Regions from separate parts of the Homo sapiens genome. Here region 1 is linked to region 2. The links come from fine-mapping of genetic effects on gene expression. A gene starts in region 2. The other region holds a variant in brackets. All regions are shown on one strand. Distances are from middle to middle.

Evidence for each region.
Region 1: its variant is fine-mapped to the expression of ATXN2L in whole blood (INTERVAL, PIP above 0.99).

Annotation. Positions count from the first base shown.
Region 1 is chr16:28,907,656-28,912,655 of GRCh38, reverse strand. It overlaps RABEP2 (rabaptin, RAB GTPase binding effector protein 2), which reads left to right. Exons shown (of 13, transcript NM_024816.3): 6 at 1,477-1,572; 7 at 1,670-1,768; 8 at 3,892-4,047. Among named protein-coding and RNA genes, the nearest start is that of RABEP2, 15 kb to the left of the region's middle. The variant C/T (reference allele first, on the strand shown) is at 2,111.
Region 2 is chr16:28,819,619-28,825,130 of GRCh38, reverse strand. It overlaps ATXN2L (ataxin 2 like), which reads right to left and starts at 2,132. Exons shown (of 22, transcript NM_007245.4): 1 at 1,573-2,132. The coding sequence starts at 1,871. LOC124903672 (a long non-coding RNA gene) reads left to right here and starts at 1,089. Exons shown (of 2, transcript XR_007065042.1): 1 at 1,089-1,237; 2 at 5,110-5,512. RefSeq lists a silencer at 926-2,075 and enhancers at 2,396-2,605, 2,117-2,853.

The DNA.
Region 1 (5,000 bases), 88 kb before region 2:
AGAATGCTGGAGCCCAGGAGTTTGAGACCAGCCTGGGCAACATGATGAAACCCTGTCCTACAAAAAAACACAAAAAAGTAGCTGGGCACAGTGGCACATGCCTATGATCCAGGCTACTTCGAGAGGTTGAGATGAGAGGATTGCTTGAGCCCAGGAGGTCGATGCTGCAGTGAGCTGAGATCGTGCGCCACTGCACTCCAGCCTGGGTCACAGAGTGAGACCCCATCTCAAAAAAAAAAAAAAAAAAAAGAAAGAAAGAAAGCTTACTTGGGGCTGTGTTGGGGTAGGGGACACAGGAGAAGCTGAGAGGCTGGGACTGTGGTGTACAGGAAGGTGGTACCTTGGACCAGGGGATGGCCGCAGAGACAGGAAGAAATGGGTGGATGTGGAATCCACTTTTTTTTTTTTTGAGATGGAGTCTCGCTGTGTCACCCAGGCTGGAGTGCAGTGGTGTGGTTCTCGGCTCACTGCTAGCTCCACCTACCGGGTTCATGCCATACTCCTGCCTCAGCCTTCCGAGTAGCTGGGACTACAGGCGCCTGCCACCACACCTGGCTAATTTTTTGTGTTTATAGTAGAGACGGGGTTTCACCATGTTAGCCAGGATGGTCTCGATCTCCTGACCTCGTGATCCGCCCACCTCGGCCTCCCAAAGTGCTGGGATTACAGGTGCGAGCCACCATGCCCGGCTGGAATCCACTTTTTTTAAGATGGAGTCCTGTCCTGTCACCCAGGCTGGAGTGCAGTGGCCTGATCTTGGCTCACTGCAACCTCTGTCTTTCAGGTTCAAGCGATTCTCCTGCCTCAGCCTCCCCAGTAGCTGGGATTACAGGGGCCCGCCACCACGTCCAACTACTTTTTTTGTATTTTTAGTAGAGACAAGGTTTCACCATATTGGTCAGGCTGGTCTTGAACTCCTGACCACCCACCTCAGCCTCCCAAAGTGGTGGGATTATAGGCATGAGCCACCATGCCTGGCCCTGTTTTTTTTTTTTTTTTCTCTTTTTTGAGACGGAATCTCACTCACGGCAACCTCTGCTCACTGCTCACTGCAACCTCTGCTTCCTGGGTTTAAGTGAATCTCCTGCCTCAGTTTCCCGAGTAGCTGAGATTACAGGTGTCCCGCCACCACGCCCGGCTAATTTTTTGTATTTTTAGTAGAGACAGGGTTTTACCATGTTGGCCAGGCTGGTTTTGAACTCCTGACCTCAAATGATCCACCCGCCTCGGCCTTCCAAAGTGCTGGGATTACAGGCGTGACCCCACTCCACCCAGTCCTGTGGAATCCACTTTGGAGGTGGACCTGGCAGGGCCTGCTGATGGGTGGGGAGTGAAGGGAAGAGAATGGATGGCTGGGCCTGTAATTTGACGGACTGTGTGGATGAGGGCACCTCCCTGCAGAGGTGGGCCACGAGAAGTGTGGTGAGGGGGGCCAAGTTCCTGGGAGATGCAGGCTGAAGGCAGGGTCTGTGGCAGGGCCGACAGCTGCAGAAGGACCTGGAGAGCGTCAGTCGCGAGCGGGACGAGCTCCAAGAGGGCCTGAGACGGAGCAATGAGGACTGTGCCAAGCAGGTGGGTCCCTGCCGCTGCTGCAGCCCCAGCCGGCCTCTGGCTACCTGCCGCCCCCTGACATGCCCTTGCCCTCACTTTCGCCCTCCCTCCAACCCAGATGCAGGTGCTCCTGGCCCAGGTCCAGAACTCAGAGCAGCTGCTGCGGACCCTGCAAGGGACCGTGAGCCAGGCCCAGGAGCGGGTGCAGCTGCAGATGGTGAGTACCTGGGGGCCCTAGGGCAGGAGGGCGAGGAGTCCAGCAGGAATCAGTTGCACGTGGTGGAAGGGGGCACGTGGGAAGTCAAGGAACCTGTCCTGTCCCCAGCTGCTCAGGCCACACCCTGGAACCGGTGCCAGGTAGGTAAGAGGGTTTTGGGGCAGCTGGTGCCGTGGCCAGAACAGGGCCCCTGCAGCCACACAGAGCTGTTTGATCTTGAGCTAATCCCAGACTCCCAGCCTCTGCCTCACCATCTATAAAACTGACATAATGGGCCCTAGTTTGCAGAGTCATGAGGATTAAAATCAAATCTGACTGGGCGAGGTGACTCATACCTGTAAT[C/T]CTAGCACTTTGGGAGGCCTAGGCGGTTGGATCACCTGAGGTCAGGAGTTCGAGCCTAGCCAACACAGGGAAACCCCATCTCTACTAAGAATACAAAAATTAGCCGGGCATGGTGGTGGGCGCCTATAATCCCAGCTACTTGGCTGGGCAGGATAATCGCTTGAACCCAGGGGACAGAGGTTGTAGTGAGCCGAGATCACGCCATTGCACTTCAGCCTGGGTGAAAGCAAAACTGTCTCAAAGAAAAAAAAAAAAAAAAAGCAAATCAGATACTGACAAAGACTGGGGAGGAGACATACGTGATTGAACAGGGCCAGGTGTAGGGCAGGAGGGTAGGAGGGCAGTAGGCGGCCTGGAACCAGAGGCCCCTGCAAGGGGCTCCTGCCTCTGGGCTTTGCTGACTGTGGCCACCTAGGAACACAGGTTCCCTGCTGCCAGATTTTCTGATTTTTCAAGAGAAACCAAAAATATGAATATTTGTGTATTGTCTCCTATTTTTTTTTTTTTTTTTTTTTTTGAGACGGAGTCTCGCTCTTTCACCCAGGCTGGAGTGCAGTGGCACGATCTCGGCTCACTGCAAGCTCTGCCTCCCAGATTCACGCCATTCTCCTGCCTCAGCCTCCCGAGTAGCTGAGACTACAGGTGCCTGCCACCACGCCCGGTTAATATTTTTTTTTGTATTTTTAGTAGAGACGGGGTTTCACCGTGTTAGCCAGGATGGTCTCGATCTCCTGACCTCGTGATCCACCCGTCTCGGCCTCCCAAAGTGCTGGGATTACAGGCGTAAGCCACTGAGCCCGGCCTCCTGTTTTTTTTTTTTTAAGAAATGGTGTGTTGCTCTGTCGCTCAGGCTGGCCAGGCTGGAGTGCAGTGGTGCAATCAGAGCTCACTGAAGCCTCAACTTTCTGGGCTCAAGCAATCCTGCAGCCTCACCCTCCTGAGTAGCTGGGACTACAGGCTCACACCACCATGCCCAGCTAATTTGTAAATTTTTTTGTAGAGTCGGGGTCTCACTATGTTGCCCAGGCTGGTCTCAAACTCCTGGCCTCAAGTGACCCTCCCACCTTGGCCTCCCCCATAGCCAGGGTTATAGGTGTGTGGCACCACGCCTGGCTTGTCTCTTAATTTTTAGAATTGGCAACTACTTTAAGGTTTTAAAAATATATATGGGCCGGGCACGGTGGCTCACACCTGTAATCCCAGCACTTTGGGAGGCCAAGACAGGTGGATCATCTGAGGTCAAGAGTTTGAGACCAACCTGACCAACATGGTGAAACCCCGTCTCTACTAAAAGTACAAATATTAGCCAGGCGTGATGGTGGGCGCCTGTAATTCCAGCTACTTGGGAGGCTGAGGCAGGAGAATCGCTTGAACCCGGGAGGCGGAGGTTGCAGTGAGCCGAGATCACTCTATTGCACTCCAGCCTGAGTGACAGAGGGAGACTCTGTCTCAAAAAAATATATATTTTTTAAAATTTAAATTTATATATATTTAAATATTTGTGTGTGTGTGTGTGTATGTGTATATATATATATATATATATATAGACCAAGTAAAATATCTGGCTTGGGCCCTGGCAGCAGCCTGTAATCTGCGTGTTAGCAGGGACAGAGGTGTCTGAAGAGCTTGGTAGCAAAAAGTGCTCCTTCCTTGCTTAGGAACAGAGAGGGTATGGGCTCTCTTGCTGTCAGTCTGGGAGGAGGGTTCAAGGAGGTTTGGCCTCCTAGGGACTGGAGACGCCCTGTCCTCTTCATTGCCTTATACTAACTGTCTGTCCATAGGCGGAGCTGGTCACCACCCACAAGTGCCTGCACCATGAGGTAAAGCGGTTGAATGAGGAAAACCAAGGGCTCCGGGCCGAGCAGCTGCCATCCTCAGCCCCCCAGGGCTCGCAGCAGGAGCAGGGCGAGGAGGAATCACTGCCCAGCTCTGTGCCAGTAAGCTGAGTGTGGGCACTGAGAGCCTGGAGCCACCGTGAGGGCCCCTTCTTCCCAGGCAGGGCAGAGCGTTGGTCACGACCAGCCAGGGTGCTGTGTATTTGCTTGGCTAACTCATTTGCCTTCTCTAAGGCTCAGTTTCCTCATCTGAGAAATGGAACCATACATGCTTTCCAGCATTGGCATCAAAAGAAAATGAATTAACAGAATGCTTGGCAGGAAGGAAGCAGTCATTTGGTTGGTTTGCTATTTTTAAGTGACACGCGAGCCACAAGATTGAATTTATCATAATCTTTGGTTTATAGCAAGCTGCCATCATGGATCTATGCCTAGCCTTTGTCAACTTTTTCTTAATAATATGGCTTATTAGCCAGGCGCGATGGCTCACACCTGTAATCCTAGCACTTTGAGAAGCTGAGGCGGGCGGATCACTTGAGGTCAGGAATTTGAGACCAGCCTGGCCAACGGTAAAACCCTGTCTCTACTAAAAATACAAAAAAATTAGTCAGGGCTAGGCGCGGTGGCTCACGCCTGTAATCCCAGCACTTTGGGAGGCCAAGGTGGGTGGATCACCTGAGGTCAGGAGTTTGAGACCAGCCTGCCCAACATGGCAAAACCCCATCTCTACTAAAAATACAAAAATTAGCCTGGTGTGGTGGCGGGCACCTGTAATCCCAGCTACTCGGTAGGCTGAGGCTGGAGAATCGATTGAACCCAGGAGGCGGAGGTTGCAGTGAGCCGAAATCGCGCCATTGCACTCCAGCCTGGGTAACGAGTGAAACTCTGTCTCAAAAGAAAAAGAACATTAGTTGGGTGTGGTGGCTCGTGCCTGTAATCCCAGCTACTTGGGAGGCTAAGGCAGAAGAATCACTTGGCCTGGGAGCCAGAAGTTGCAGTGAGCCAAGATCGCGCCACTGCACTCTAGCCTTGGCGAGAGAGCAAGGCTCCATCTC
Region 2 (5,512 bases):
ATCTTCCTGCCTCAGCCTCCCGAGTGGCTGAGACTATAGGTACGAACCACCACTCCTGGCTTTTTTTTTTTTTAATTTTTAGTAGAGATGGGATTTCCCATCTGTGTTGCCCAGGCTGGTATCGATCTCCTTGGGCTCAAGGGATCCTCCCACCTTTGCCTCCTAAAGTGCTGGCATTACAGGCGTGAGCCACTGCGCCCGGCCAATAAATAAGATTTTCAAACTGTCACCTTGTAGAGGAAGAAAAAAATAGACATTAATAAGCCAGCAAACACATTTCCTCCAAATGCCAGCAAAAAGATCTCAATCAACAATGGTTGTCAATTGCTCTAAGAACCAACGAGAAAGGGGCTAGGGCTGCAGGCTACCAACAGATCAATGCTACAGTATTAACCAAAAAGCCACGCCAGCTGTGAGGGCAAAAGCTCCAGGAGTGCAGCTTTGGAACTACCTAGCTCAGGTACATTACCTCCCAAACAGAAAAGACAATCATTTTCAGCAGCCTGACGCCTCAAAACTGTGGGAGGAGGGGTATCCCCTCCACACCCCATCCCCTCGACCTCATGACTCATTCAGCCCGTTACCCACTCTGCGGGGATCACCAATCGCCAGGTAACCCTGCTCGTCGCTGGCTGATGTAACCGGCGGTTGAGGGCGAAGAGGGGGCCGCTGGCGGGGCTGGGGGACAGCGCAGCCGCAAAAGCCATCCACCGGGAGGCCTCGCCCGGTCTGCGCCTGCGCACTAAAACCCACGGGACTTTCCGAACCCCCACCTCCAGCGATCAGAGCCCACTGCGCCTGCGTGTGCTGCCACTCTTAATTCCATTAACACACACACACTCGCACAGGAAAAACTGAGCAGGGCCTCCACTACTCATGCACTGCCACCAGACGAGCCCCTCCACGAACTAGTCCCTGCCCTAGGTGTTCCCGGGGCGCGCGAATGCCCGGGTCATGAGACCGAGCATCCACGCGCACGTACGGGAAGGGGGCGCGCGCGCCAGAGGCTCCCGGCCCGCAGTCCTCCCAGTCATCCCTCCTTCCGTCCCCCCGCCCACCTCGCTCCCCTCCTACTGGCCAGACCGGGAAGGGGGAGGCAGCAACCCGCTCCCAAGTCCCTCCCTCCCCATTGGCCAAACTGTGGGCCGCGCGCCCCCCTCCATTGGCTACGGCCGGGGACCCCTTCCCGCAGCAGACTCCCCATTGGCTGAAGCCGGGGACCGCGAGACCCTTCGTGGTAATGGAACCGGGGACCCCGATCAGCTCCTTGCCCCCCCCCAACTCCCCGTTCCGACGGCGCCGGCGGGATGCGCCCCGCCTCCCCTGAAGGCCGGGGCTGCGAGCCCTGACTAGGCCCCGAGAGCCGAGCGCGGCCCCTCAGTGCTCCGGTGGCCGCCCGGGGACCCTTTCCGTCCGACCTGTTCGGACCTGAGGGGGCCCTCCCCCAGCTTCACGGGGACTCCCCACCCAGCCGGTGCCCCTGACGGTGCCGGGTCGGGGTCCGCCCCACCGGAACCGAGCCACAGCCTCTGGGTGGCCGCGGCTCCCTCGCCCGGAGCCCACCCTTCTCACCTGGCGCTGCCGATGGCGGCTGCCCCCGGCCTCTCCTGGTGTTGCTGCGGCGGCGGCGGCTGCGGCGCCAAGATGCCTTCGGCTCCCCGGCGGAGCCCGCTCCCGGCAGCGGCCACAGGCCCCAGGCAGGGGGAGGCGGCCGCTGGAGGCCCGGGAGGAGCCGCAGAGGTGGCCAGCGGCCCCGGGAGGCCGCCGTTGGGAGGGCTGGTGCCCCCGGGGGGCCGACGGGCCACGGCCTGTTGCGTGGGGGGCGGCTGCTGGGGCTGGGAGGGCTGTTGTAGCGGCTGAGGCTTCAACATGATGGCAGCGTCCGGAAGGGGAATTAGAGAGAAGGGAGGGAGAGAGGGGGCCGGGGCTGGGGCCCCGCTGGAGAGCGCGGGAAGCGAGGGGGATCGGGCAGCCGGGGCCCGCCGTGGGCGGGCGGGGGGAGCCCCGCGGTGTCGGGGGTGGAGAGAGAAGACCGCGGCGCGAGGAAGCGCCGCGAGGCGGAAGGGGAGGGGGTCTCGCGGCTGGAGGAAAGCGAGAGGGCGCGAGCCGGGCTGGCGCGCGTGCGCGTCGCCGGGGAGCGGAGAGGGAGGAGCGCGCGGGTGGGAGCTCCCGGGGGGGGGGGGGGGGGGGGGGGGCCAGGAGCGAGCAGTGGCGCGAGGTGCCGCGCACACCGGCGCGGTTAGCTCCCGGCGGGAAAGTGGGAGAGAATCAAGTCGGTGAACCTCGCACCCCTAGCCCTGGGAGTGGGTAAGGAGCGGCGCGGGCGCTCACGCGCGCCAAGGATTTAGGGTCTTAAGGTCTCAAACCGCCTTAGAAGCCGGCGGCCGCTGTCGCTTCACAATGAGCGTGTGAGGCGCAGGGGGAGGAGCCGAAGGCGCCAGAGGAAGGGCCGGCCTCTCCGCCCACGCCGTCGCTGCGTCGCGATGCCTCCGCGGGAGTGTGAGGCGGCACGTCGTGCGTGAGGCTCTTCCGCCACTTGGCGGCCCGTGGGCAGAGCCTTAAGTGCCAAGAAAGTCTCCGGGACTGGACCACCCGAGCCACTGCGCTTTTAGGCAGGTGGTAGGTTTCGCAAGGAGCTACCCTCCACCTTGTTTGCTTTAAGTAAAAGACTGATGAGCATTAGTGATTCGTTTGAGCGTGTTGATCTTTGCAGATAAATTTACGCCTCGTCCTAAATTATTTCAGATTTTTGTGATTTTGACCTAAATTGTTCCTCCATGCCCGAGAATGAATCTTTAAACTGTAATAACAAAGACTGAAGGCCAAAGTTCCGAGTTCAAAATCCTCCACCCGACCCTGCAATGAAGGCAGCTTCATTCATTCAAAATGAGTTGGGCATTGGAGTATTCAGTTAGTTGTTTTGGACACAAGGATAATTAAACTGCTTCCTGCTCTGGAGGAGTTCATGCTAGTGGTGAATTCAGAGAATTTGACGAGATCTAGTAGGTGAAGCACAGAGGACTACAAGAGCAAATGGGAGTGACACCTAATCTTAATCCAGTTTTGGGAGACCCAGATAAGGGACAGGAGGGCCGGGCGCAGTGGCTCATACCTGTAATCCTAACATTTTGGGAGTCCGAGGCAGAAGGATCGTTTAAGGCCAGGAGTTTGAGACCAGCCTAGGCAACAAAGTGAGACTTTGTCTCTACAAAAAAAAAAAAATTTAAATTATAAAAAAAAACTGATAAGAGGGCAGGGGGAGATGGGTTTCTAGGCAGGGAAATAGGATATGACAAACTAAGAAAAACTCAGCTTGTCCTAAGCATAAAATTAAAGGGGGGAAGAGGTAGCTAATCTGGGATCAGGTTTTAAAGGCTCCCAAGTCTTGTAAGAGACACGGACATTATCCTCAAAGCAGTGGGGAGCTTATTTAAGAAAGTGAAAAGAGGCTGGGCATGGTCTGTAATCCCAGTACTTTGGGAGGTTTGAGGTCAGGAGTTTGAGATCAGCCTGGCCAACATGGTGAAACCCTGTCTCTACTAAAAATGCAAAAATTAGCTAGGCGTGGTGGTGCATGCCTGTAATCCCAGCTACTCAGGAGGCTGAGGCAGGAGAATCACTTGAACCAAGGAGGCGGAGGTTGCCGTGAGCCCAGATCGCACCACTGCACTCCAGCCTGGGTGACAGAGCAAGACTCCTTCCCCCCAAAACAAACAAAAAAACAAGTGAAAAGAGGTCAGATTTGCATTTTTAAAGGTTTACTCTTTGCAACGTGGAGAATGGAGTGGAGCTGTTAAGTCCATGTGGTCTTAATCCCAGCGAAACTCTCAATGTCTCAATCTCTTCGCTCTAAATGTTAGCATTGGAACTCTTCCCAGCCCCTGCACCAAACACATGCACACCTAGCTACAACACTGCCTTACTTTTTGGGTAATAGTCCTTCGCCCTGCCTCGCTCCTGCCTTCAGATGTGCTAGTTTCCCCTCCTGTGTGCTCGCCGAGCAATTTATCCCACTGTATTCTAACAGCTCCTTTAATTCTGTCTTCCTGCTAATGTCAGCTCCCTAAGGGTTAGGATCTTGACTTATTTCTTGCTCTGCAGTACTCTAGCACACTGCAGGCACTCAATGAAATATCTGTAAGGTGAGTGGATCCAAATGATGTTTTTTTGTTTGTTTTTGAGATGGAGTTTTGTTCTTATTGCCCAGGCTGGAGTGCAATGGCGCGATCTCGGCTCACCACAACCTCCGCCTCCCGGGTTCAAGCGTTTCTCCTGCCTCAGCCTCTTGAGTACCTGGGATTACAGTCATGCACCACCACACCCGGCTAATTTTGTATTTTTAGTGGAGACGGGGTTTCTCCATGTTGGTCAGGCTGATCTTGAACTCCCGACCTCAGGTGATCCACCCGCCTCGACCTCCGAAAGTGCTGGGATTACAGGCATGAGCCACCACGCCCAGCCCAAATGGTGTTTTAAAGGTCATCATGTCTCCTGGGTTCCCTAACAAACACAGTCCAGCTTTTTCCTGGCATTACCTGGACCACCTGATGCCATGCCACCTCTCTACCCTCATTGACAGATTGTGAGCACTGAGCACTCTAACCCCCTTCCATCTACCCCATCCTGCTCCACACTCAAATTCTGAGTTTTAGCCCCATGAAACTTCTTTCTCCATAGCTTGCCTTGCCCTTGCTAGTGGCAGCTAATTTGCATGGGGTCTACAGCAACCTCAATTCTTGCCTCCTCAGAAGAAAGAATTCCACCAAGGGGCATAAGGCAGAGGGAGAGACAGAGGCAAGTTTTAGAGCAGGAGTGAACGTTTATTAAAAAGTTTTAGAGCAGGAATGAAAGGAAGTAAAGTACACTTGGAAGAGGGCCAGGCGTGAATGACTTGACAGATTCAAGTCCCTGGTTTGACCTTTGACTTGGGGTTTCATATGCTGGCATGCTTCCAGGGATTTACGGTTTGCATCTCTTCTCCCCTGATTCCTACCTTGGCATGGGCTGTCCACATGCACGGTGGCCTGCCAGCACTTGGAGGGGCCACAAGCACAGTGTGTTCAGTATACTGAAGTGCACATGCTCACTTAAGACGTTCTTCCCTTACAGATCTAGCATTCCTGGAGGAAGGGCATGTACCATTAAACTCCGCCATTTTGCCTCTTGGTGCATAAGCTTGAGCCCATTTACCCAACTTCTGAGATCTTATCGAGAAGCTGCTGATCATCAGTTTCAAGTGTTTTCCATCTATTTGGAGACTGCCTTTCCCTGGTGCTGGCTGCAACCAATTACTATTTTAGAGACAAGTTTAACAACCACCTGACCATCACCTGATGGTTGCCTAACATTCCTGGTGGTGGGGTTGGGGCAGCACTCCTGCCCCAACAATGGGAATGTTGTCTTATCGTGTGCAATTTAAAAATTATATCACTATGGCCAGGCTCAGTGGCTCACGCCTGTAATCCCAGCACTTTGGGAGGCCGAGGTGGTTGGATCGTGAGGTCAGGAGTTC